Linked DNA regions of Homo sapiens. The protein of the gene in region 1 binds, or shares a complex with, the protein of each later gene. Each region holds a gene or a part of one and is shown in the gene's direction. Other genes may lie near its edges.

The links.
Region 2: ING3 (region 1) and VPS72 share a complex: the UniProt entries of both Homo sapiens proteins name them as parts of the nuA4 histone acetyltransferase complex.
Region 3: ING3 (region 1) and MBTD1 share a complex: the UniProt entries of both Homo sapiens proteins name them as parts of the nuA4 histone acetyltransferase complex.
Region 4: ING3 (region 1) and EPC1 share a complex: the UniProt entries of both Homo sapiens proteins name them as parts of the nuA4 histone acetyltransferase complex.

Annotation. Positions count from the first base shown.
Region 1 is NC_000007.14:120,953,758-120,960,790, forward strand, and holds part of ING3 (inhibitor of growth protein 3), read left to right. Parts: intron 1-1,801; coding exon 1,802-1,867; intron 1,868-2,402; coding exon of another isoform or gene 2,403-2,414; exon of another isoform or gene 2,415-3,223; intron 3,224-7,033. UniProt on the Homo sapiens protein: Component of the NuA4 histone acetyltransferase (HAT) complex which is involved in transcriptional activation of select genes principally by acetylation of nucleosomal histones H4 and H2A.
Region 2 is NC_000001.11:151,175,801-151,180,227, reverse strand, and holds the end of VPS72 (vacuolar protein sorting-associated protein 72 homolog), read left to right. Parts: intron 1-2,082; coding exon 2,083-2,227; intron 2,228-3,163; coding exon of another isoform or gene 3,164-3,196; coding exon 3,197-3,584; 3' UTR 3,585-3,924; downstream 3,925-4,427. UniProt on the Homo sapiens protein: Deposition-and-exchange histone chaperone specific for H2AZ1, specifically chaperones H2AZ1 and deposits it into nucleosomes.
Region 3 is NC_000017.11:51,257,027-51,264,428, reverse strand, and holds the start of MBTD1 (MBT domain-containing protein 1), read left to right. Parts: upstream 1-4,379; 5' UTR 4,380-4,573; coding exon of another isoform or gene 4,574-4,594; exon of another isoform or gene 4,595-4,630; intron 4,631-5,222; 5' UTR 5,223-5,286; intron 5,287-7,402. Other genes in the region: UTP18 (U3 small nucleolar RNA-associated protein 18 homolog), read right to left, coding at 1,043-1,155, 3,503-3,844. UniProt on the Homo sapiens protein: Chromatin reader component of the NuA4 histone acetyltransferase complex, a multiprotein complex involved in transcriptional activation of select genes principally by acetylation of nucleosomal histones H4 and H2A.
Region 4 is NC_000010.11:32,288,156-32,295,188, reverse strand, and holds part of EPC1 (enhancer of polycomb homolog 1), read left to right. Parts: intron 1-1,451; coding exon 1,452-1,597; intron 1,598-1,994; coding exon 1,995-2,201; intron 2,202-2,544; coding exon 2,545-2,693; intron 2,694-3,554; exon of another isoform or gene 3,555-3,732; intron 3,733-3,866; coding exon 3,867-4,026; intron 4,027-7,033. UniProt on the Homo sapiens protein: Component of the NuA4 histone acetyltransferase (HAT) complex, a multiprotein complex involved in transcriptional activation of select genes principally by acetylation of nucleosomal histones H4 and H2A.

The DNA of each region.
Region 1 (7,033 bases):
TATATATTGCTAGGTACTTAAATTAGTGGACCCACAGAAGAACGAAATCTTAAAAGTTAGAAGGAATTTAAGAAAGCCTTCTAGTTTAAACTCTAAATTTGCACACGAATTGGTCTGGAAACATAGAATTCTTTGAGGTTTTGTTAGTTTTATAGTGGCTATAGCTGTCTTCCAGAATTGAATGAGTATACACGTACATCTCAAAGTTTGCTTTGAAAGTATGATTGAGTTCATTTAGGGATGGATACATTGGAAAAACAACTTAAAAGACTTGAGTTTGGTCATGATTCTGCTATTTAGCTGTGTGACATTAAATCTTAATATTTCTGAATAATAATGCCTTCCTAAACCCAATGTTCATAGAATTGTTCAAGGATCAACTAAGAGGCCTGGCGTGGTGGCTCACACCCATAATCCTAGCACTTTGAGAGGCTGAGGCGGGTGGATCACCTGAGGTCAGGAGTTCGAGACCAGCCTGGCCAACCTGGTGAAACCTCGTCTCTACTAAAAATACAAAAATTAGCTGGGCGTGGTGGTGGGCGCCTGTGATCCCAGCTACTCGAGAGACTGAGACAGGAGAATCACTTGAACCCAGGAGGTGGAGGTTGCAGTGAGCCTAGATCGCGCCACTGCACTACAGCCTGGGCAACAGAGTGACAGAGTGAGACTCCGTCTCAAAAAAAAAAAAGGGTCCACTAAGGAAGAAATTTGGAAACTACAAATTGAGTAGTTCTGTTATGATATGTTATTTATTCTACCACATGGAGGGAAGATTGTTTCTCTTAGGAAAAAAAAAAATCATAATCTATAACAGAAGTGGTCCTAGCTTGGAAGATACCTGGAGGGACATGTGTTTGTGAGTAAAGACATGTTATATCCACATCCCAGAGTCACTAATCATTTCTTTAACCTGTGGAGTGCACCTTAAGTATACCCTGAAAAGTCTAGTACTCCATGGAAATTCATAGTATCATCTTCTTTCCCCCTCTTTTTTAAAAAAAAATTTAATAAGTTGAGGCAAAATCTAAAATACAGATTGAGTTGTATGAATATATACCTAATTTAAAGTGGGAGTTATAGAACAACTGGAAAATGGGGAAATGCAGATCAGAATCCTTTCAATAGCTGAACTTTAACAAAAATTTTTTAATGGAATGCAAATGTACTTTACAAGTTAGATCAATTTTAGTTAACTTTTTATTTTAAATACTGTTCATTAACTCATATAGCTTTTTCTAGACTTACAATGGCATTTACTTTTAATTATATCCTTTCTAGAAATTCTGAACATCTCCCTTTTACTCTTGGCCATTGTGCATAGTTTCTAATCCTATACCATCCCCACCCTATTTCTAACAGGTTTTTGTTTTGTTTTGTTTTTTGTTTTTTTGAGACAGAGTCTCGCTCTGTTGTCCAAGCTGGAGTGCAGTGGCCCAATCTCGGCTCACTGCAACCTCTGGCTCCCGGTTCAAGCACTTCTTGTGCCTCAACCTCCTGAGTAGCTGGGATTACAGGCGCCCACTACCATGCCCGGCTAATTTTTGTATTTTTAGTAGAGATGAGGTTTTGTCATGTTGGCCAGGCTGGTCCCAAACTCCTGACCTCAAGTCATCCGTCCTCCTTGGCCTCCAAAAGGGATTACAGGCGTGAGCCACTGCCCCTGGCCTCTAACAGGTTTTTTATTACTAAGGTAGGATGACTGTGATAACAAGATATGATAATGAAAATGCAGTTGTATGTCCTGCATATGAATATTTTAAAATGATTAATTTATTTTTGAAATGAAAATGTTTTCATTCAGGACTACTATAAAGCTTTGGAAGATGCAGATGAGAAGGTTCAGTTGGCAAACCAGATATATGACTTGGTAAGTAAAAGTAATGTGCATACTGTGCCATAAGTACTTGAATAACAGATTATATCTTAAATTGTATTGGCTTAAATGTAGTAGGAAGAAGCAACTAAAACTGAAGTATTGCTCTCTTGATCACATCTAATTTGACATTTCAGTGTCCATTTTATGGTTTCTTTGTGGAAAAGTCAGAGTGGTTAGTTAATGTGGTGAGAACTGTACATTTTAGCAAGTCTATACGGCGGTAAGGTGGTTTCTGATGTTAGATATTTTTTAAACAAGAATTAATGTTTAACTTTATTTTACTAATCCTTGTCTTCTTAAGGTAGTGTGTTTACTTGCCTTATACATCATTTTGAGATTGTTTCTGTGGTAAAATACACCTAAGAAGACTGCTTTGACAAGAGTTCTTGGTAGTCTGATTAAAATGAAGAAGAATCATTTGAATCAGTGTTTATGTGAGTGATGTTAAAAGATCGTATGTAACAGCTGTGTCAGTTGTTTAAGCAATACAAGATGACAAACTTTAAACAAGATTCTTTTTTTGCAGCAGCACTTCTAAAAGATTGAAAACACCAAGAAGATAGATAGAATATTCACTATTTCTCATATTGATGCAATTGTGGTGCTCTTTTTCATTTGAAACATCTTCTCCTAAAATATACACTTTAAGAAATAGTCATTTCTGTTTTTGCATTAAAGTAAATTAAAGCAGAAAACACATGCTCACTTTTGGCTAACTTCAGTGTATAGATTTCATACTTATGTTGTCTTTCCTGGGTACAGATTTATTACTGAACAAGTACGTGTAAGTAAAATGTCATTGGTGAGCAGGACACAAGATAAAAGGTGAACACCACATATGGTGTGAATTGTAAATGCTTATACCACAAACTTGAAAATGTGTCATGTAGAGCCATGGAAAATGTCTAGTTGTTTTTATGTAGTACACACATTTTAATGGTGCTAACAACCTGGGCTCTTTTGTTCATAGAGTTATTCTGAAAAAAATTTCATAAAAGACACTGCCTAAAGATAGGTAGAATAGGCTGTAGCTTGATTTACTGTGGAATAAAAACCAAAAAAAAAAAGGTCTTAATTGTTTCAGTCTTTAATTATGTCTATAAACTTAGAAAAAGGCATTTACATTTGAATCTAGACTAATTTGTTTAGTAACATTCTTCCTCATATTCAATGACTGTATGTATCAGTCCTTATTTAGAGACTGCCTGCTTTTTAATTCATATAGCTCTTTGGTTCTATTCTTTGTTTTGTTTATTATTTTGTTGTTTTATTGCTTGTTAGACCTTTACTAAAGATATTTTGTGTATTTAGAAAAAATATAACATAAATATATGCTTTTTAAATATGTGTGTGTGTGTATTCATCTCTTATTTAAAAACCACACTGTTCATCCACTCTGTGCCTGAAAAAAGGGAGCTGTACCTGGGTCTAATGGAGGAATAAAAAGTAAATACTAGGCCGGGCGCAGTGGCTCACGCCTGTAATCCCAGCACTTTGGGAGGCCGAGGAGAGTAGATCACGAGATCAGGAGATCGCGACCATCCTGGCTAACATGGTGAAACCCCATCTCTACTAAAAATACAAAAATATTAGCCGGGCCTGGTGGCGGGTGCCTGTAGTTCCAGCTACTCGGGAGGCCGAGACAGGAGAATGGCGGGAACCCGGGAGGCGGAGCTTGCAGTGAGCAGAGATCGCGCCACTGCACTCCAGCCTGGGCGACAGAGAGCGACTCTGTCTTAAAAAAAAAAAAAAAAGTAATACTAGAAATGGCTCTTGTCCTCAAGGTGTCTGTAAACTACTGTTGTGGGGCAGACATACCTGCAAACTAAAGTGGAGAATCCATACAGAAACATGTAATAAACATTAACCAGTTGAATATTAAGGGGTGTCTACTGAAAAACATTGAAGTAAGTCATGCAGAGTTACTTACTGATTTCTTAGAGGGTATAGGAAGAGTTTTGAACAGAGTTTGTTTAGAAAGTCAAGGTCCTGAATTAGGTATTGTATTGAGGGGAAAGCATTTCACTCAGAGATAATGGCATAAACAGAAGGAAAGTACAAATTCAGAAATTAATTGAGAAGGGATAGATTCCAAGGCTAAAGAGTGAAGTAATAAAGGCGAGGTAGTAAATTTAATAAAGCATAAGAAATACAACAGAAAGCAAGTGTCCATAATGGATCCATGCAGATGTGAGTTCAAACCCTAGCTCAGCCATTTCACTGACACCATGACTTTGGAAAAGTTATTTAATCTTGAACCACAGTTTCCTGCTGTAAAAAAGCAATATTAATTTATACCTTACTGAAGGGTTTGCATTAGAATACATACAATGCTATTAGTTTGGCAGATAGTAGGATTTGCTCCTTCTTTAAGAACTCAGTCCATCTCATTTCCTGAACTGGAATTTTCTATTTTCCTGAAGCCACTGCTTCCCTTTCAACTCTGCCAAGTGGAAGCTGCTGTCTCTCACTCTCCTAGTATCTCTGAGGCTTCTTTTTGTCTTTTCTTCTTTTTCTTCCCCCACCCTTTCTTTTCTGCCCCCACCTTTGCTCTACCCTCTTCCTTTTTATTATTTTTTTTCTTTTTCCCTTTCTCCTTCCCTGCCTTTCTTTTTAAATACTTTAATCCTATTTCAGGTGAACATTATATCCTTAATATAAAAAATCCCTTCTCTTTCAGACTTAGTGATAATCATCTCAGTTACCCTCTGCCTCTTATCACTATAATTTAATGGCTTCTAGGTGAGGCTCAGATTGAAAAACTGGTACCCGGTTCACAGTTCTCTGTTGCAATCATCTTATACTACCTAGTCATCTACTTCTTTGGCTTTTGTAAATGCTAATCCACTTCAGTCGCCACAGACTGAACCTGATCATCACTTGGAATTGCCCTGCCTCTGATACTTCTTGCGTCTACACTTCCTCCTATTTTATCAGCCCTTTCCTATTCAATCAAGAGACTGGTTGAGCTCTTGACCACTTTTCTTACAGGTACCTTCCACATTGTTGCTGCCTTAGGGCATGTTTTTACTTGCTGCATCTTTGCTTCATCACTTATGCCTTCTCTTTTTCATCTTTAGCCTCTTTTCTTTCTATTGGCTTCTATACCACAGCATTTAAACATGCTCAGGTCTTCCTCATATTTAAAAAGAACTCAGGCAATCTAATATAAATCGTGTCGTGACCGTGACTCTGCTTTAGCTAGTGTAGTCTTCCTTAATTTCTCATTCAGACTCTTTGACACTCCCTTACCTTCAATTTATTCCTAAATTTATGGCAATTGGGGTTCTATTTACTAATCCTCTATAACTTCATTTAATGAATTCTTTATTGCTAAATTCATCAGACAGCTTCAATTCTTTTTAACTGACCCTATTGGTAAATTTAATGCTTATTGCCATTCGTTTTGTCTTGCCATTCTTGACCTTGTATTACCATGTGACTGCCTGCTCTAGATGCTCCCACCTTTGTGACCTTTCTTAGTCTCCTTCTTGGGTACAGCTCATAATGATGGTGTTCCTCAGGGTTCTGTCCTTGACCTACATGGTTTCTTACTCTTCAAGTGGTTCTCACATGAAGGTGATTGTCTTCCCCTCTTCTACCTGCCAAGAGGGCCAGGAAGAACAAATTCCACAGCGTAAAGACCTGTTCTTTCAAATGCAAGTTTTATCCCCAACCTTTGCACACCACCCAAGTTGAGAGACACTCCTCTATTGCAATTCCATGTGTTCTCTTAGTGTTAACAATTATACGTTAATTATTCCTGAAGCCCAAGCTGTTTCTTTGAGTCTTTTAATCTTAGCTGACTATTCCCAGGCCCTAGAACTCAGTGTTTTGAAATTTAAAACTCAAAGCATCTCCTTTTTCTTCTCTAACTACCCTCCCCTGCCCCATCACCAACTTTTTGTTTCTAAATCTCACATGAACCACACTGACCTTGTAGTCATTCAGATTAGGGCACTGAAAGTCACCCTATACTCCTTGTCACTTCCTCACATTTTTTTTTTTTTTTTTTTTTTTTTTTTTTTTTGAGACGGAGTCTCACTCTTTCGCCCAAGCTGGACTGCAGTGGCGCTATCCCGGCTCACTGCAAGCTCCGCCTCTTGGGTTCATGCCATTCTCCTGCCTCAGCCTCCCGAGTAGCTGGGATTACAGGCGCCCACCACCACGCCCGGCTAATTTTTTGTATTTTTAGTAGAGACGGGGTTTCACCGTGTTAGCCAGGATGGTCTCGAACTCCTGACCTCGTGATCCGCCCGCCTCGGCCTCCCAAAGTGCTGGGATTACAGGCGTGAGCCACCACACCTGGCCTGGCAAACTATTAAATAAAGACTATTTTAGATTTCGATAAGTACACAGGAGGAAATAAACATTGTAGAAAGAGAGGAAGGGGGAGAAAGGGAGAGACAATTGAATAACTGGCGAAGGCTGTTAAGAATGTAGTCTAAGGAGATGACGTTTGAGGTGGTACTTGGAAAATAAGAAAGAACCACCTGTTGGAAAAGCTAAGGAAAGAATGTTTCAGGCACGTGGTATACCAAGGGCAAAGTTTGGAGTGGAAAAGACTTGGCAAGTTGAACCAAGAGAGAGGCCGGGGTGGTTGGTCTGTGGTCTGTAATGGGAAAGGAGCAGCATGAAAGGAAGCAGGCAGGAGCTAATGCATGGGGGCCTTGCGAGCCAGTCTAGGAGGAGAGTGATTCTTAGTCTAAAGCGGTGGGAAGCCAGTGAAGGACTTTAAACAGAGGCGTGGAATATAGACCTTAAAAGAGATTTTGTGTAGGTATGCCTTTGCTTAAACATTATATTATAGGAATTTTAAATAAGCATGTATTACTTTTACAGAATTTATGGTACATCACCATAGTATGCAATTATGTTTGATTTTATCCCTCAGTGTTTTATATGGCGTTGCATTTTGTTGTATTTTTTCATTGAAATATTTTATTTACTTTTAAACCAGTAGTAAACATTTTTTTTCCTGTGACCATCACTGCACTGGTCACCTCATTTATTAAGGAATAAACCAAACTACATATTATCAACATATTATCAATGAAGAAATTTGTTTTAGGGTTCCGGTAGAAGAAACTGACAGTTTATTTTAGTAGCCGTTTTAGTGAAATTTGACTAACACACACAAAAATCTATCCTGTTAAA
Region 2 (4,427 bases), on another chromosome or scaffold:
CCTGCCTCAGCCTCCCGAGTAGCTGAGATTACAGGTGCAAGCCACCACGCCCAGCTAATTTTTGTATTATTAGTAGAGACAGGGTCTCACCATGTTGACCAGGTCTGTCTCAAACTCCTGACCTCAGGTGATCCACCCGCCTAGGCCTCCCAAAGTGCTGTAATTACAGGCATGAGCCACCGCACCTGGCCTCCAGAGTACTCTTTTATGGTCAGACTTTAGGGAATTGTGTTCATCATAACCATATTTAAGGACACAGAAATCTGGAGTTCATTCAGAGGAAGGGGACGAGGAATATTTTGATTCATTTTTTTTCGTATGTTTGTTTTGTCTTTGGAGATGGAGTTTCACTCTTGTTTCCCAGGCTACAGTGCGATGGTATGATCTTGGCGCACCGCAACCTCCGCCTCCCAGGTTCAAGCAATTCTCCTGCCTCAGCCTCCCGGTAGCTGGGATTATAGGCATACACCACCACATCTGGCTCATTTGGTATTTTTAGTAGAGACGGGGTTTCTCCAAGTTGGTCAGGCTGGTCTCAAACTCCCGACCTCAGGTGCTCTGCCCACCTCAGCCTCCCAAAGTGCTGGGATTACAGGCGTGAGCCACCGTGCATGGTGATTCTTTTTTTTGAGACGGAGTCTCACTCTTTTGCCCAGGCTGGAGTGCAGTGGCGCGATCTCAGCTCACTGCAAGCTCTGCCTCCTGGGTTCACGCCATTCTCCTGCCCCAGCCTCCCGAGTAGCTGGGACTACAGGTGCTCACCACCACGTCCAGCTAATTTTTTGTATTTTTAGTAGAGACAGGGTTTCTCTATGTTGGCCAAGATGGTCTTGATCTCCTGACCTCATGATCCGCACACCTTGGCCTCCCAAAGTGCTGGGGTTACAGGTGTGAGCCACCAAAAAAAGCCCAGCCCTTTTTTTTAAATTTTTAAAATTATTTATTTTTTTGAGACAGAGTTTCGCTCTTATTGCCCGCGTTGGAGTGCAATAATGCAATCTCACTTCAACCTCTGCCTCCCAGGTTCAAGCAATTCTTCTGTCTCAGCCTCCCAAGTAGCTGGGATTATAGTCATGTGCTACCACGCCCGGATAGTTTTTGTATTTTTAGTAGAGACGGGGTTTCACCATGTTGGTCAGGCTGGTCTTGAACTCCTTTCCTTAGGTGATCCACCCACCTCGGCCTCCCAAAGTGCTGGGATTACAGGCATGAGCCACTGTGCCCAGCCTTGATTCATTTATTCATTAACAAATATTTAATGAGTGCCTGTAATGTGGAAAATGCTGTATCACCCTGATAATATTTAGGCAATATGAGTTATAGTCACTGCCCTTAAGGAGGAGACATATATACCAATAGTGCATCGCCATGGAGCAGTATCACGGAGACCAGGCAGGTAACATGAAGTGTGCAGCCAGCCAGAGGGATGGTGGTGAACTGGAGAGGAGTGCCTGAAAGGAGGAACAGTTACTCAGCTCAGCTAATTGTTCCCCTGTAAGAATGCAGACCCAGGGTTGCGAGATTTTCTTGTTGTTTAAGAGCGACCAGAAATCTCTATATTTAAATATAATTTCCTACCTTACTAATTTTTTTTTTGGAGATATGATCTCACTCTGCTGCCTAGGCTGGAGTGCAATGTGGTGCCATCTCAGCTCACTGCAACCTCCACCTCCCTGGCTCAAGCGATCCTTCCACCTCAGCTTCCCAAGTAGCTGGGATTACAGGCGTGTGCCAGCACACCCAGCTGTAGGAGTGAATTGACAGGGCATTTGTAGAGGAGATTTTGGTATCTGGGAAAGCAAATAAGCTCCTCATCAAAGGGTACCTTCCAACTCTGAGGTACTATAGAGGGCCCAGGTGTACTTGAGAAATGAGCAGAGAGGATGTCAAGAAAAAACTTATAAGCAGAAAACTTACAAAATGGGAGGTGCCAGACGGCCTTAGGGGACTTCCATAGTTGTCTCTGGTAGTTGGCAGTGACTAGATAGCCAGGAAGATAATTGAGAGATCGTGGGACAGTACTGGGATATGGGAAAAAGGGACATTCTGATCATCCCCTCATTTCTTCCTTTGACCCTAAAGAGACATATGAGCGGCTCGAGGCTGATAAAAAGAAGCAGGTTCATAAGAAGCGGAAGTGCCCCGGGCCCATAATCACCTATCATTCAGTGACAGTGCCACTTGTTGGGGAGCCAGGCCCCAAGGAAGAGAACGTTGACATAGAAGGGTGAGTGAATCTCAAGAGGAAAAGAGATTGTGTGTTCAGCTCATGTTCTCTTGGCCCCATTTTGCTTGCTTTTCTCACACAGCTCTCCTTAACACTTGGAGATTTCTTTCAGATTCCTAACTCCCTTCAGCTCAATTTCTTTTTCTTTTTTTTTTTTTGAGACATGATGCTGCTCTGTCACCTAGGCTGGAATGCAGTGGTGCAGTCTCGGCTCACTGCAACCTCCACCTCCTGTGCTCAGGCGATCCTCCCACCTTAGCCTCCCAAGTAGCTGGGAGTACAGCCACACATGCTAATTTTTGTATTTTTTGTAGAGACGGTTTCGCTGTGTTGCCCAGACTCCTGGGTTAAAGTAATCGTCCCGCTTCATCTTCCTAAAATACTGGGATTACAGGTGTGAGCCACCGCGCCCAGCCCAGCTTATTTCTTTCTTATTCCTTTTTCTTTTAGCTTCTCTGTTCTTCTCTTTCCTGTTTTTCCTTCTAGCCTAGCTTTCTTTTCCCATCAGTCACTTAGTACGTTCCTCAGAATGTTCCCAACACCCTGCCTCCTTTTTCTCTTTCCTCATCTCTCTGATTTCCTTCTTTCTTTCTTTTCTTTTTTTTTTTTTTTTGAGATGGAGTCTCGCTGCTCTGTCACCCAGGCTGGAGTGTAATGGCACGATCTTGGTTCCATGCAACCTCCGCCTCCTGGCTTCAAGTGATTCTCCTGCCTCAACCTCCTGAGTAGCTGTGATTACAGGCATCCGCCACCACGCCCGGCTAATTTTTGTATTTTTAGTAGAGACAGGGTTTCACCTTGTTAGTCAGGCTGGTCTCGAACTCCTGACCTCGTCATCTGCCTGCCTCAGCCTCCCAAAGTGCTGGAATTACAGGTGTGAGCCACTGCACCCAGCCTGATTTCCTTCTTTCTGTATCTGTTGTCTTCTCTCCTCAGCTCTTTGTGTTTTTCCTTGTCTTTTGTCCTCAGACTTGATCCTGCTCCCTCGGTGTCTGCATTGACTCCTCATGCTGGGACTGGACCCGTCAACCCCCCTGCTCGCTGCTCACGTACCTTCATCACTTTTAGTGATGATGCAACTTTCGAGGAATGGTTCCCCCAAGGGCGGCCCCCAAAAGTCCCTGTTCGTGAGGTCTGTCCAGTGACCCATCGTCCAGCCCTATACCGGGACCCTGTTACAGACATACCCTATGCCACTGCTCGAGCCTTCAAGATCATTCGTGAGGCTTACAAGAAGTACATTACTGCCCATGGACTGCCGCCCACTGCCTCAGCCCTGGGCCCCGGCCCGCCACCTCCTGAGCCCCTCCCTGGCTCTGGGCCCCGAGCCTTGCGCCAGAAAATTGTCATTAAATGAAGAGATGTCTAGTCCTCAGAAACTTCTTTCCTGCCCTGATTGGGGCTCTTGCTGTTCCGTTTCTTCTCCCTGCTTCTCCCCTTTGTCATCTCTGATCTTTGCCTAATCTGTTTCTTTTTCCTTTTCCCCTAGTTCTTACAGGTTTCGTTGTGTTTTTTAATCTAATAAAATAGAAAGATCCCTTTTGTCTGGTGTCCAGTCTAGGGTTGGGAGCAAGAAGTATTTGAATACCTGCATATATTTGGGTCTTTATTCGATAGCATTTATTATGAGCTGTCCTTTCTAAATTGTATTCATTCCTCCAACTAAATTATAAACATCTGAAAATTGCACACCAAAACACATCCTTGTATTGACCTTCCTATCACTTTACACTCACTGTTTTGAATACAGCAGGCACCAAATAAGGAGGAACTGGCTGATTCTAGTCGAACTCATATGTCTCAGACTGGGGCTTGTATGAAGGGAAGTGGAAGAGATGCCATGGCTGTTAATGACCACTAGAGGCTCTCAGGGCTGGGCAGGGTATGGGGGCTGTGTATATGTGATCTCCCACTACCCCCCACCTGGCCAGAGCTAAAATAATAAAATGCTGAGCTCACTGTTCCCCCACCCTCTCCCCCGGCACCGGGCTCCTCCTGCTGCTGGGACAGTGCTCTAGTAGAACAGACAGACCTACTGACACAGGGGAGGTGAGAAGGGAGGTGACCACCAGGACTGGTAGGTGGGGAAGACAGGGGGCTTATGGATGAGAGCCCGGTGGGAGATGGGAGGAGAAGAGTGGCTCCTATGGGGAATGATGTGGAGTGTGTCCCTGTCTCTGTCACTCAGTGTATATTTCTG
Region 3 (7,402 bases), on another chromosome or scaffold:
AAATTAGAAAATAAAGAAAGGTTTATACATAAAGAGGTGATAAACATTAATGCTGAAATAATCTGCATTAAAGGGAAAAATAAGGCTGGGCACAGCAGTTCACGCCTGTAATCTCAGCACTTTGGGAGGCAGAGACGGGTGTATACTTGAGGTCAGGAGTTCAAGACCAGCCTGGCCAACGTAGCAAAACTCCGTCTAACTCTGTCTCTACTAAAAATACAAAAATTAGCCAGGTGTGGTGGCACACGCCTGTAGTCACAGCTACTCGGGAGGCTGAGGCAGGAGAATCGCTTGAACCCAGGAGGCAGAGGTTGCAGTGAACCAAGATCGCACCACTGCACTCCAGCCTAGGTGAAACAGCAAGACTCTGTTTCAAAAAAAATAATTAAAAAAAAAAAAAGGGAAAAAGAAAATCTACCCAACAATAGCCACGTAAATTATGGTTAATTCACATAATTGACTCCAACATAGCCATTTTAAAATGTCTATTTTTTTTAAGTAGGGAGAAATGTTTACAAAGTAACTTTATGTAGAAAAAGTCAAAATGTTAAATCAAGCATACAGTACATTCTCATCCATGACAGTTCCTATGGTGTGAGCTACCTTCTTTTTAGCCTTTACTCAGTTTCAGGCACTGTGCTAAAAGTTCTACAAGTACTATTTTGTTTAATCCCAACAAAATTCTGATGTAGTTACTATCATTGTGCCCATTTCACAAAGGAAAAAATGTAGGTTCCAAACTGCCCATGGTCAATTAGAAACTGGCCAAAAGAGGAGGCAAATCGAGATCTGACTTCAAACACTGTATTCTCTTAGCTACTGTATACAGCAAAGAGGAGACTGAGACAGAAGTGTGACAACATGCTAACAGCAGTTCTCCCTCGGTGGTGGGATCAGGAACCATGAAAGATCTTTTCTATACTTTCAAATATTTTTCAAATCTTCACATAATCACAAATTGGTAAAAAGAATGATTTTAAAATCTGCAAAATAACTTTTTTAAGTGTACAGAGGGATTCAGAAGAAAAGTTAGGCAACTTACATTTCCTCATCTTCATCTTCTTCATCCACCCAAACTGGCTTCTTTTGAGGTGGAAAATTACCTTTTGCTTCATTCTCCACTTCTGAGTCACCCGAGTCTTCATGTTCTTGAACCTACAGCAGACAAAACACCCTCAAGCACTGAGATTTTCCTATCCCATGACTGCAGACACATAGGCCTTACAGCCAAATGGCTCATAGAATGTTTTTTCTACCACTCTCTGATGAAATAATGGGATGGAATGCTACCATTGCAAATGCTGGAAGCAGAGGCAGAAAATGGAGAAATCAGAGAATGGCACCGACTGGACAGGTGAGGCAAGATGGAACAGTCAAGGAGAAAAAGTCAACACTCAACACGCAGGAAGGAAAACACCAAGTAAGACAAGAACAAAAGATGAGTCTGCAGATGAAAAAAGGAGGAGAAATGTCAGAACTACAGAAATTACAGGACCGGAGGCAAACTAGAGTCAAAGATATCTCCATTTTCCCAATCTGTTTTTGACCCCCTACCTCCTTAAGAAACTTTATACCAGCAGAGAGCGCAATGCCTCATGCCTGTAATCCCAACACTTTGGGAGGTCAAGGTGGGAGGACTGCTTGGGCCCAGGAGTTCGAGTCCAGCCTGGGCAACATAGGGAGATCTCGTCTCTACAGAAAATTTTTAAATTTAGCTGGGTGTGTGGTGTGCACCTGTGGCCCCAGCTAACTACTTGGGAGGCAGAGGCAGGAGGATCACTTGAGCCTAGGAGGATGAAGCTGACTTCTGAGTTTAAAGTGTTCGGAGAATTGTGCAGGTGTAATTTATCTGTGACCAACAAGAAGAGCAACCAGTTACTATTAGCAAAAGGGAGATGGAAGACTAATAGGTGCCGCTACACTCCAGTCTGGGTGACAAAGTTAGACCGTATCTCTAAATAAGTAAAAAATAAATATACCATTAAATCTAAATTCTAAAGTTATAAATTTATACCATAAAGTTTATACTATCAAATCTAAACCTAGGCCGGGTGCGGTGGCTCACACTTGTAGTCTCAGCACTTTGGGAGGCCGAGGCGGGCGGATCACGAGGTCAGGAGTTTGAGACCAGCCTGGCGAAGATGGTGAAACCCCGTTTCTACTAAAGATACAAAAAAAAATTAGCCAGGCGTGGTGGCGCACGCCTGTAATGCCAGCTACTCCAGAGGCTGAGGCAGGAGAATCGCTTGAACCCAGGAAGTGGAGGTTGCAGTGAGCCGAGATGGCGCCACTGCACTCCAGCCTGGGCGACAGGGCGAGTCTAAAAAAAAAAAAAAATCTAAACCTAGACCACAGAATATCCCTTGAAGTGAGTTTGAGCTTCCCAAAACCAATGATAGAAATGTCCAAGTGGTTTCTACTTGCTCTACTACTAGTCTAATAGCCTTCAAACCCAACAGCTCCCACCTCCGTACACTGTTCCTTTTCCAGACGACAAAACCGTCGCACAGTTCAGCATGTTTCCAGTAATAGTTCTGTACTTCCCAAAAAGATTGCTGCCACTTCTCCTACAAGCACCCGAAGGCGGCTCTGGTAAGCAGCTGACATTAACTAGGTCAGCATTTGTGTAATAAACATGGCCTGGGTAATTCTCGGTGAGCTTTCCTCTGCCCCCTTTATCTAAAATTTCACAGGCCTCTACACACGCCCATCTCCCTTTCCCGAATGTCCTTTTTTCTCTTCAGCACTTGTCACCAACAAACCTGAAGTTTACTCGTTTATCTCCTCTATCTTGTCTCTGCCACTAGCACACAAGCGCCAAAAGGCAGGGATTTTTGTCAGTTTTGTCCATTGCTGTGTCTCCTCCAGTGCCTAGAACAATGTCCGGGACTCTCTCAAGAAAAGCCTGGTATAGAATTTAAAGGGATAGCAAAATGTGTGCAAAAAGTATGATCAATCACGCAGGGTTTGCCATTGCCAGAAAGGGTATCTGGCAACTAACAGGTTCACCAATATTTGCTAAATGAACGGAATACACGATCATTCTCAAAACATGGTGGGTCTCATAGTCACATGGGGACATAGTTACAACGGAGATGCCCAGGCCCGTGCCCACGAATTGATTCCATCAACGAAATCGAATTCCTGAATCACAAGGAACTGAGGCAGGTGATCAAAAGACCACCCTCAGTTTGGGAAGAGGCTAGCGGAGTCGAGCAGCAGCGAAAGATGCTCACGACCACAGTTCGCAAAGCAGATACCCGAGCAGCGGCGCCTCCAGGGGCGGAGAAAGACGCGGTCCCCGCCCTCCAGGCACTTTCAGTCTGGAGCAGGGAGGCGAGGGACCCGCAGCTGCGACCCTCCGCGCCCGCGTTCTCGGGCTCCCTCCCACCTGAGCGCTCCCCGCCGCCGCAGGTCGCCCAGGCTCCGCCCCCCGGAGCTTCACCGCCCACCGCGCGCCCCGCCCGAGTGCGCCCAGCCCGCGCGCCGCGGCCTCCCTCACCCTCGGGCCTCGCAGACGCCGCAGCAACGCGTCCTCGTCGTTCTCGACGTCGCCGAAGACCAGCTCCTCCAAGCACCGCTCCACGGCCGGTTTGTCCTCCTCCAGCCTCAGGCGGTTCCGCTGCCGGAGCCGTCTCTCTTCCTCCGCCGCCGCGACTGCAATCGCAGCGGCCGCCGCGCTCGGCCGGGCCGGCGGTTTCCGCTGGGATGAAGGGGCAGGCTTTTGGGGAGGCCCGCCTGGCCCCGCTCCGGCTTTCCAGTCCGGCCTCATTCCGGGCTTCCGCTTCGGCTTCGCTCCGGTTCTCCGGTCCAGTTTCATTCGTCTCCTCCGCTCCGGCGGCATCGTTAGGTTTGAGGAGAAACGCAGGCGCTCACGTGGAACCTCGCTGCGCATGCGCCCAGGCCCCTCGCGGGCCGCCGCCGCCGAAGCCCCGGGGGCCGGAAGGAGCCTGCGCAGCCTCTTGCCACGTGACCAGCACTCCCTCCCTCTACGTAACTCCCGCTCCCCTACCCAGCCCCGCCCCGTGTGGGAGTTCCTCCGGGAGGGCCAATCTTCCGGGTGTAGGGGGAAGCGGCGTGACTGGAGTGGAAAATTTTTCCAACACAATTTCGCAGCTGCAACATATTGAAAGGAGCGCAAGAAACCCCGACTATACACTGGGACGGCTGAATGGAACTTCTGCTTTTCCTCTTGGCTGTAACCACTTGACTTGACACAAGCCCCAATACGCTTTCCACCCTTCGTCTTGGTACGGTCCTTGGAGTACGGAGCCTGCAGAGGGTCCCACGGTGGAAGCGAGAGAGGAGGGTATGTAGGGAAGTGGGCCAATCGGGGCGCGGGTCACGGCGCAGGCGCGCTGGGGAGGGAGGGCTATGCTAATGTTGTTGATATCCTGGGGCCACCCGAGTTAAAGGGGGGAAATCCGGGGGCTGCTGCACCCGCCACCGGTCTGGGCCCAGCCGGGGGCCCCCTGTAGTCGCCGCAGTCCCGGGGAGAGGCACCTGCCCCCAGCCCGGGGAGGGGGCGCCGCGGGCTCGGGGAGCACGGACAACCCCTACCCATGAGGCCCTGATGGAAAACACAAAGGATCTGGTGAGAGCCGAGCGCGGCAGCCGCTTTGTGTGCCAGGTGGGGGGGACGCCTGCAGCTCTCCGACCCCAGGAACCCCGCAGCTCCCTGACCCCGCTCCCTGGCCTGCTTCTCCATCCCACGCCCTCTCAACCTCCGGAGCCCCCCTCCCCCTTCCAGCCGTTAAACGATTCAGGGGTTCCCCTCCCCCCACCCCGTCAGCCTTGGACTCGTTGGGGTTCTCTCCATCTCCTCCACCCTTTGGAAGAAAAATTCGAGAAGAAAGTTTTTCTCTGCGTCCTGCCCCCGCCCCCTGCTCTGGCTAGGGGGGAAAGGCTGGATCCGAGACTTTTCCTTTTTTAGCCACCCAGGGTGGGAGAGTGGAGTAGTCCTCTCTTCTTGGCGGGGAGGGGGAGCACAGTTTCGTTGCTTTGCAGGGGAAGGTGTCTATCTGCCTTGGGGGCAGTGCCGCGAGGCGGTTTGCACGTGGAGGTGGAAATATTGAAAGGGGGCGGGGTGGGCACGTGCGGGAGAGGTGGGAGTGGTGTTTGGGAAGCAGCCTCCAAGGCTGCATATTTAAAAGGGTTTCAAGTCGGTGGACTTCTGTGACCATTGCGTTCTCCTTTGTGAAATAAGAATCCTAACATTTCAGAGTCGGAAGAGACATTAGAGGTCATCCAAAGCAGCCGTCCCCTCTGCAGCCTCTCTGACAAGTGGTAGGTAGTCTGAACCCTGCTTACACCCCTAAAAGCACTGAGAGCTCACTACTGCCCAGGAAAGCCCATATTTCAGTAGTTCTAATTGTTGTCTGCCTACCCTTATTAGACCCTTCAGTCTCATTCATGTCCTGGTTAAGTTGCTCCTTTTTTTACTTCTCAAATTTTCTCTCACATCCTCCTCACCCACCCACTGCTCATTGGCCTATATTTTGTGTGCCAAGAAAGAACAGCAGGGAAGTGGAGGAAGGGGGGTTGAGAGATAGTGAGGGCTAGCCGAAAACTTTGCTGGGTCAGTGTCAAGTGTGCTGGCTTACATGCCTGAAGATGTTTTTCTACAGGAAGCTAAAGAATTACAATATGGGAATTTCGTGCCTGTTTTCTCTTAGGAGTGCATCTTTTTGAAGTTAGAAATTTCAGCGTCATCTCCGTGGTTCTTGTATCACAAAACACATTTGTTTATTACCTAAATCACTTCTAAGGATGTCTAAAACTGAAGTGGTTAGAAGCATCACCTGGTAGAGGGATGATTAGATGATTACCGCCCACACCCGTATTTGACCTGTGTTCCTCGGAAGCTAGTCTTTCCTCCAAGGGCCTCTCTTCCAAATGCTTTTACTCCTTCTTTTTTTTTTTTAAGTAACTATCTTTTATGAGATTTGAAATTTACGAACCATTTTAATACTTGTTTAGAGTTTACAATATTTTTAATTCTCCTTATATTAGCATGCACCAGTACTTATCACTGGGTGGTTGAGATAGTTGAAACTATTGTCACTGGGTGTTTTTCTAACATTCTCCTTCATTTGGTGAGCTATGCTGCCTCTAAAAGTAGTTTTATTGGCCTAAGAATCTTGGATATACCTATTACTCTCTAATGTGGTGAAGTGGGTGTCAAGACATAACAGGTATAATGTAGAAATAATGCATGTGATTTAAAAGCCAGCAAATAAATTTCACCTTAAGCCCCAGTCTCCTATTTAAAAGGTTAGACTCAATTTTTCTCTCCTCCTCTTATAACTTAGAGACTGTTGCTTTGCTCTTGTGGACTTAGACTGTTATTTTATTTTTCATTTGTTTACCTCAACACCAGAGTGTTTAGAAAGAAAATAGCTGTACTTTTTTTTTTTTTTTGCACCACCTCCTTCTCTGAATAACAAGTAGCTTCTATCTATCTAAAACCCCATACTGATTGCTTGTGAGTACCTTGCAAATTATGGCAACATCTGTCTTGAATAAGTATTTATTCATAGTGCCTTACGTTGTTGCGTCATGCTTTTTAACCATCCAGTTTCTAACTTTATGTAATGTTTGACATAAAATATTTCCTCTAAATCTACTCATTAGAATTCAGCTTGTGAAAAAGAATCAGTAGAGGTGTAATAATAGTGTTTTTAACATTTTAATTAATAAGGAGTTCCAAGTTTTTTTCCTGCTTACTTTAAACATGAACTGTCATGACTTAAGTTGACTGACTTTGGAGACATCTGCATTCTAAACATACTAGACAGGAACAACTGGTTTTATTTTTAAGACGCTGCCATATTCTTTAAAGCTGGTTATATGTTGACCTTATTATCTAAACCTTTCTAGATGTTCTAGTGCTGCTTTTGGTCCCTCAATAATGTTGAAAATTAAAACAACATTTTAAATTGTTTTCAAATGTAACATAGTGATCAAAGGAAAATATAAGCTATAGTTTAAAAGTGAAAACAACATATTAGGATAAATACTAAACCACTGAATTACTAAAAGCCAAGAGTGCTCAGTAGTCTGAGTAACCACATTCTAAAATTAGACAAGTGACATTCTTTGGGTTGCTCTTTGTTTCTCAGCTTTTCATCTTTAAAATGTTTGCTAAATAAGATATAACCTTTCACACTTATGTATCATTAGTCTGAGGGTTTCAAAATTCAAGAAAGAATAAAAACATCAGGACAATAAAAGAGAAAGGACTTACAATAGTTAAAACAAGCTAAGATATTTCTCCTAACACCACAGTATTCTTAACTGTGCAAGATGACTTTTGATTTCAGGCAAAAATTGCACATAGATTTAATCATTATTTTTTAATAAACCTTGGCTTAAGGATTTTTTTACCTGCAAATTTAGGATT
Region 4 (7,033 bases), on another chromosome or scaffold:
GGTACAGAAGTAAAGAAGGCATGCCTCTCCCTAAAGAGATCACACACATTCTAATAGGGAGGCATGCTTAACAAGCAGATTATAAAGTATGTGAAGTGGGTTCTTAGCCACTAAAAAAGATGAAAGTGGTTAGGAACCACTTCTTGGGTGGGGAAAAATCAAAAAAGGATTCTAGATGAGTGATACCAGGCTGGGTGCTAAAAAGAATAAATAGGCATTTGCCTCCTTGGTGGGCAAGCAGAAAAACAGGGATTTTTGTAAAGGCCTGCAGTCATGAAATAGCATACTGCATGAAATCAATGAAATCTGATGTTACTAGATCATAAAGAACTGATAACACTGGAGAGAATAGGAAAAAAGGGCCTTATACCATTCTAAAGATGTGGACTGTAATGTTAGTAGAAGGAATTAAGTAAGGGAAAGATGTGAGACAAATTTTTATATTAAAGCTATTTAATATTTTGCTTATATTCATATCAACCTAGCTTAATTTTGGTAAGTAATTAAACAACATTTGATAGTAGCAGCGGTTCTTGCAGATCTAAGATCCTCCCATTTCCATCAGCATGACAGTGTTCGCGTAGAGAAACAAACTTCCTAGGCAGGAACATACTCACCGAGTGACAGCTGCTGAAAACTCAAAATCTGAAATGCTCCGCAGTTCGAAATTTTTGAGCACCAATGTGATTCCACGTGTGGAAAATTATACACCTGCCCTCATGTGATGATGGGTCACAGTCAAAACTTCACGCACAAAATTATTTAAAATATTACATAAAATCACCATCAGGCTATGCATATAAAGTATATGTGAAAAAAATGAATTTTGTGTTTAGACTTGGGTCCCACCCTCAAGAAATCTCATTATACGTATTCAAATATTCCAAAATCCAAAACACTTCTGGTCCCAAGCATTTTGGGTGAGGGATTCTCAACCTGTACTGTTATTGGTAGTGGCTTCTAACACTTCAACTTTAAAGACCACTCCCTTAGCTTTTGGTAAAGTAGTTGAATAATCTACAAAATAGGACTTAAATATTATAGAAAAAAATCTTAAAGGCCTTCTCCTTTTATATTATAAAAATTGCCTATGTGATGATTTTTGAGCTATAAAAATGGCACTTCACATGGTTCAACCAAATAAGTTTTAATGATCGCTTTATGTTCTTAATAGGCTTCTAGTGTATTTGCTTTTAGGAGTGGTTGGAGGGTGTCGCATCCATTGTCTTTTATTACTTATATGTATATTCATAGTAAAGATAATCTCCTTTCTTTAACTTTAAATGTGTAAGACAAATCTAAGCTTAGATTGTTTGCGACTCTGAAAACAAAATCCAAGAATTCTTTCTTATTTCTTTAGAAAGTCTAGGTCTTGTTTTTATGCAGACATCTGTGGAGTTTTTGTCGGTGAATTCACACAGTAAATGATTGCATATGGTTCCTTCTGTCAGCTTTTAGTTTGGATGCTGAACAGCCTGATTATGATTTGGATTCTGAAGATGAAGTATTTGTGAATAAACTGAAAAAGAAAATGGACATCTGCCCATTGCAATTTGAGGAGATGATTGACCGCCTAGAAAAAGGCAGTGGTCAGCAGGTACAACTTCATTTGTATATAACAAGTATATACATATTCTATGTAAAGAACTGTATTGTATGGAAAGAGTGTGAGATTGCAGGTTGGGGGTAATCAGTCAGGCTTTAGAGTTAAAAAGTATGAATTCAAATCTCATCTCTGCTTATCAGTAACCTGTGTAATCTTGAGCAATATGTTTAAATTTTTCTGTGCCTTGGTTGCCCTGGGATTGTCGTAAAGATGAAATAATGTATATAAAGCACCCTAGTTCAGTGACTGACAGGCATAATGTACTCCTCAAGTTTCCCATTTGTTAATAATGTTGTAATATTGATTATTGTCCTTTAAATTTAGAAGTAAATACTTATGAACCTTGTATGTGTATTGTATGAAAATGACATAATGGTTTTACATTTAGCCAGTCAGTCTGCAGGAAGCCAAACTACTGCTAAAAGAAGATGATGAACTAATTAGAGAAGTTTATGAATATTGGATTAAAAAGAGAAAAAACTGTCGAGGGCCATCTCTTATTCCATCAGTAAAACAAGAGAAGCGAGATGGTTCCAGCACAAATGATCCTTATGTGGCTTTTAGAAGGCGTACTGAAAAAATGCAGACTCGAAAAGTAAGTGAATTTGAAGAATTTTTTTGATAATTATATAATAAAAATTATTTATAGTTATGACTGTCTCAATACTGTGGTTTAATTTATATTCAAATATGACTTTCCAATTATAAGAAAAATACTTAAATTGAACTTAAGATTTATTATGCAGCTATTAATGTTATATTTTAATGTTAATCCATTTAAAAATCAATACAAAATTGATTTCCTGGTGATCTGTGCTCCCTTTTATTGTCTTTAAATTCTAATTTAACCCTTCAAATATATAAATTTTATGGGTCAATAACTATACCACTAGTTAGAAATACTTACTAACATTAAACAAGCAACTTCACATTTGCAGAATCGCAAAAATGATGAAGCCTCTTACGAAAAAATGCTTAAGCTGCGACGAGATCTAAGTCGAGCTGTTACTATTCTAGAGATGATAAAAAGAAGAGAAAAAAGTAAAAGAGAGCTATTGCACTTAACACTGGAAATTATGGAAAAGAGGTAATGTATATTTTAATAATGTTAGAGGAAGTATAGTGCCATTAACATTTTGTATATTGAGTTAATTTATTTCCTATGCAATAATCTAATTACAGAAATATCTTTTTTTAATAATAGAGACTTTAAATATGTGGTATGATACTTTTTATACTTTTACATGTTTTCCTCTATTTTCTTTAAAAGTGACTGGATTCACTTAAGTTAAAACATACCAAGTATTTCCATTTCAAAGTGGTCTTTTTTGGTCCTTGAGTTGCATGTAGGACTTGAGTTAATTGATAGTACTGCTTCTTTTTTAATGCATATAAAATTTAAAACACTGGATTGTTAAATAGAAAAGGGTAAAGAAAGAGGGAGAAAGGCCCATATATCTTACCACTCAAGCATTTGGCAAGGTACACAATGAAAACTTAAAGAAAACTTCTGCCCTATTTCTAGTCCCTATCCCCAAAGAAAACCACTTTTAAATTTCTTGTGATTACTTTTAGAAAAATTAGTTTTAAAGCCCAGGCAATTCTAATTAGCAGAAAGATCCTTAGCACCATTTTAGGCATTACTTTCAACTTCACCAAATCTTTCACCAAAATTGCTACATTAAAATTCCAGCTTTTGATTTTTTCCCAACAATCCTCTATTTATATGCCATGATAAAGCTATAAGCCAAAAAAGTAAAAGGAAGAAACAAAAGGAATTATGTAATCTTTGAGAGAAATTGAATAGTCAAAGTTTAACTACAATCTTGCCTTAAATGTAATTGGTGTTTATAATTATATCTCAGTCAGCTAGTTATTAATGGTTATAAAGATAAATACTTATAAAACTAACTTTCCAAAATTTTCTTCTTTTTCCTGCTTTATTTAGGTATAATTGACAAATAAAAATTATATATTTTATATGTTGGTCAAAGGGTACAGACTTACAGTTATGAAATGAATACATTCTGGAGACCTAATGTACAGCATGGTTAATAACAATGTATTATATACTTGAAATTTGCTAAGAGTAGATCTTAAGTAATCTCACCACATATACACACAAGGTAATTATGTGAGGTGATGGATATGTTAATTAGCTTGATTGTGGTAATTATTTCACAGTATAAATGTATATCAAAACATCACATTGTATTCCTTAAATATATATAATTTTAAACTTTCATTTGTATAATTTTAGGTATAATTTGGGCGACTACAATGGAGAGATCATGTCTGAGGTTATGGCACAGAGACAGCCAATGAAACCTACTTATGCCATCCCCATCATCCCTATTACTAATAGCAGTCAATTTAAACACCAGGAAGCAATGGATGTGAAGGAGTTCAAAGTTAATAAGGTGATTAATGTTTTTGTGATAATAGTATCTAATAATGGGATGGTATTTTATCATTAGAATGAAAGTTAAAAAGAAAAACACACATAGGCCGGGCACAGTGGCTCACGCCTGTAATCCCAGCACTTCGGGACACGGAGGTGGGTAGATCACCTGAGGTCAGGAGTTCGGGACCAGCCTGACCAACATGGTGAAACCCCGTCTCTACTAAAAATACAAAAAAATTAGCCAGGTATGGTGGCATGCGCCTGCAATCCCAGCTACTAGGGAGGCTGAGACAGGAGAATTAATTGAATCCAGGAGGTGGAGGTTGCAGTGAGCCAAGATCACACCATTGCACTCCAGCCTGGGTGACACAGCAAGACTCCATCTAAAAAAAAAAAGATAAAAAAAGAAAAATACATATATACCCCACCTTAATGTATACTGCAATGATTGTGCCACAATATGAAGAAAAGCAGAAGTCTATAATTAAAATTTTATTTTTGTTTCTCTTCCTTATAAAGGGAAGCTTTTGTTACTATATCTGATAAAAGGAAAAATATTCCTTTTACAAGTTGTAGGATTATGAAGTATTGAAATAATTCATACAAAATATGGAGAGTTAGGGAGAAAGACATGAAATCCTCCCTGATCAGATGAGTTTTTCTTTCTTTCTTTTTTTTTTTTTTTTTTTTTTTTTGACAGAGTCTTGCTCTGTCACCCGGGCTGGAGTGCAGTGGCCGGATCTCAGCACACTGCAACCTCCACCTCCCGAGTTTAAGCGATTCTCCTGCCTCGCCTCCCCGAGTAGCTGGGACTACAGGTAGCACGCGCCACCATGCTGGGCTAATTTTTGTATTTTTAGTAGAGGTGGGGTTTTGCCATGTTGGCCAGGCTGGTCTCAAAACCCCTGACCTCAGGTGATCCGCCCGTCTAGGCCTCCCAAAGTGCTGGGATTATAGGCGTGAGCCACTGCACCCAGCCTCAAATGAGTTTTTCTGTCTTTTGTGGACACAATAGTGTATAAGAGGGAATTTTGATATCTTAATAGTAATATAATGATTTAGAAATGGAAATATTTGACAAATTAGTACTTAACTAAGTCACAATTTGTGAAGAATAAAATTTGTGAGAGGAAATAAAATTAGTGAAGGAAAACTGAGGTAAATAAAGGAGAGCCATTAATTAAGTGGCACTTTCTTGGAAAGTGTACATCTGAGGAAAAAGTACGTTATGCATTTTTTGTATGAAATTTTTCATGGCCGGGCACGGTGGTTCATGCCTGTAATCCTAGCTCTCTGGGAAGCCGAGGCAGGCGGATCACAAGGTCAGGAGATCGAGACCATCCTGGCTAACACGGTGAAACCCTGTTTCTACTAAAAATACAAAAAAAATAGCCGGGCGTGCTGGTGGGCGCCTGTAGTCCCAGCTGCTTCAGAGGCTGAGGCAGGAGAATGGCGTGAACCTGGGAGGCAGAGCTTGCAGTGAGCCGAGATCGCGCCACTGCACTCCAGCTTGGGCTACAGTGCGAGACTCCGTCTAAAAAAAAAAAAAAAATTTCATGAAACTTTGCATCTACCATACCAGTTTAATTTGAGGAATGGGAAAATTTGCCATCAGTTTTATCTCCCCTGCATCATTTAATATCATGCTCACTCAGGTTTTTTTTTTATTGTGGTAAACAGACCTTCAAGCCTGAATGTACAACCTGCCACACAGTTAGAATGAATGATGATTTCCCCAGCCTGGACTTTTTTTGCAGGGGGAGGCGGGGAGTTATTTAAAGCAGTGCCAGGGACCAGACCATTTTGTGAAAAAACATGGACTTTTTTTTTTCCCACTTTGTTAACATGGACATTTTGATTTTTAAAAAACGTAGGGGAGGGTGGGAGGGAGAGTAGAGTTATTCTCGTTATTCTCTTCAATGATCTGGAAAGTTAGAGCTGTGCCCCAAAATACTGTTTTAGTTTACTCATGTAAGTTTTTATTTAAATTTTGCATTTATTTAAATTTTATGTCCTGCATTTGTAATATATTAGTTCTAAATGTATCTTTAAAGTTTAATGGGATTGTTCCCACTGTTACTTTTTTTTTTAAGGCAGAGTCTTGCTCTGTCACCCAGGCTGGAGTGCAGTGGCGCAATCTTGGCTCACTGCAACCTCCGCCTCCTGGGTTCAAGCGATTCTCCTGCCTCAGCCTCCCAAATAGCTGGGACTACAGGCGCATGCCACCACGCCTGGCTAATTTTTTGTATTTTTAGTAGAGACAGGGTTTCATCGTGTTAGCCAGGATGGTCTCAATCTCCTGACCTCATGATCCTCCCGCCTTGGCCTCCCAAAGTGCTGGGATTACAGGCATGAGCCACCCCACCCGACCTCCCACTCTTAACTATTTTAATGTGGTCCCCCCCTCTGAGCCCTACATGATTTTGTGGACTACTTTAGTGTTATCCTTCAGTTATCATATTTTAAGATTAATTATCCTATTATTTGCTTTCCTCTATATGTGCCACTCATACTTGAAAGTTACTTTAGGCCGGGTGCAGCAGCTCATGCCTATAATCCCAACACTTTGGGAGGTAGAGGCAGGCAGGTCACTTGAGGTCAAGAGTTTGAAACCAGCCTGGCCAACATGGCGAAACCCCATCTCTACTAAAAATACAAAAAATTAGCGAGCGCAAATTGCTGTAAATGGGTAGTAATAGCACCTAAGCATAGCATAAGGCTTTGAATTAGTAGGTACTTGGGAGGCTGAGGCAGGAGAATCACTTGAACCTGGGAGGCGGAGATTGCAGTGTGCTGATACCGCACCACTGTACTCCAGCCTAAGTGACAGAGCAAGACTCCATCTCAAAAAAAAAAAAAAAAAAAAGAAAAAAGTAATAGATAATAATGTAGTCCTCAAGCACTGCCCTAGCTGACAGCTGATGTTAGCTTTTAAATAATGTTTTGCATTGCCATGGCCAACTTTTGATTTGATTATCCTGTCAAATACAACAGTAGAAATTGTGGAGAGATGCCTTATGGTT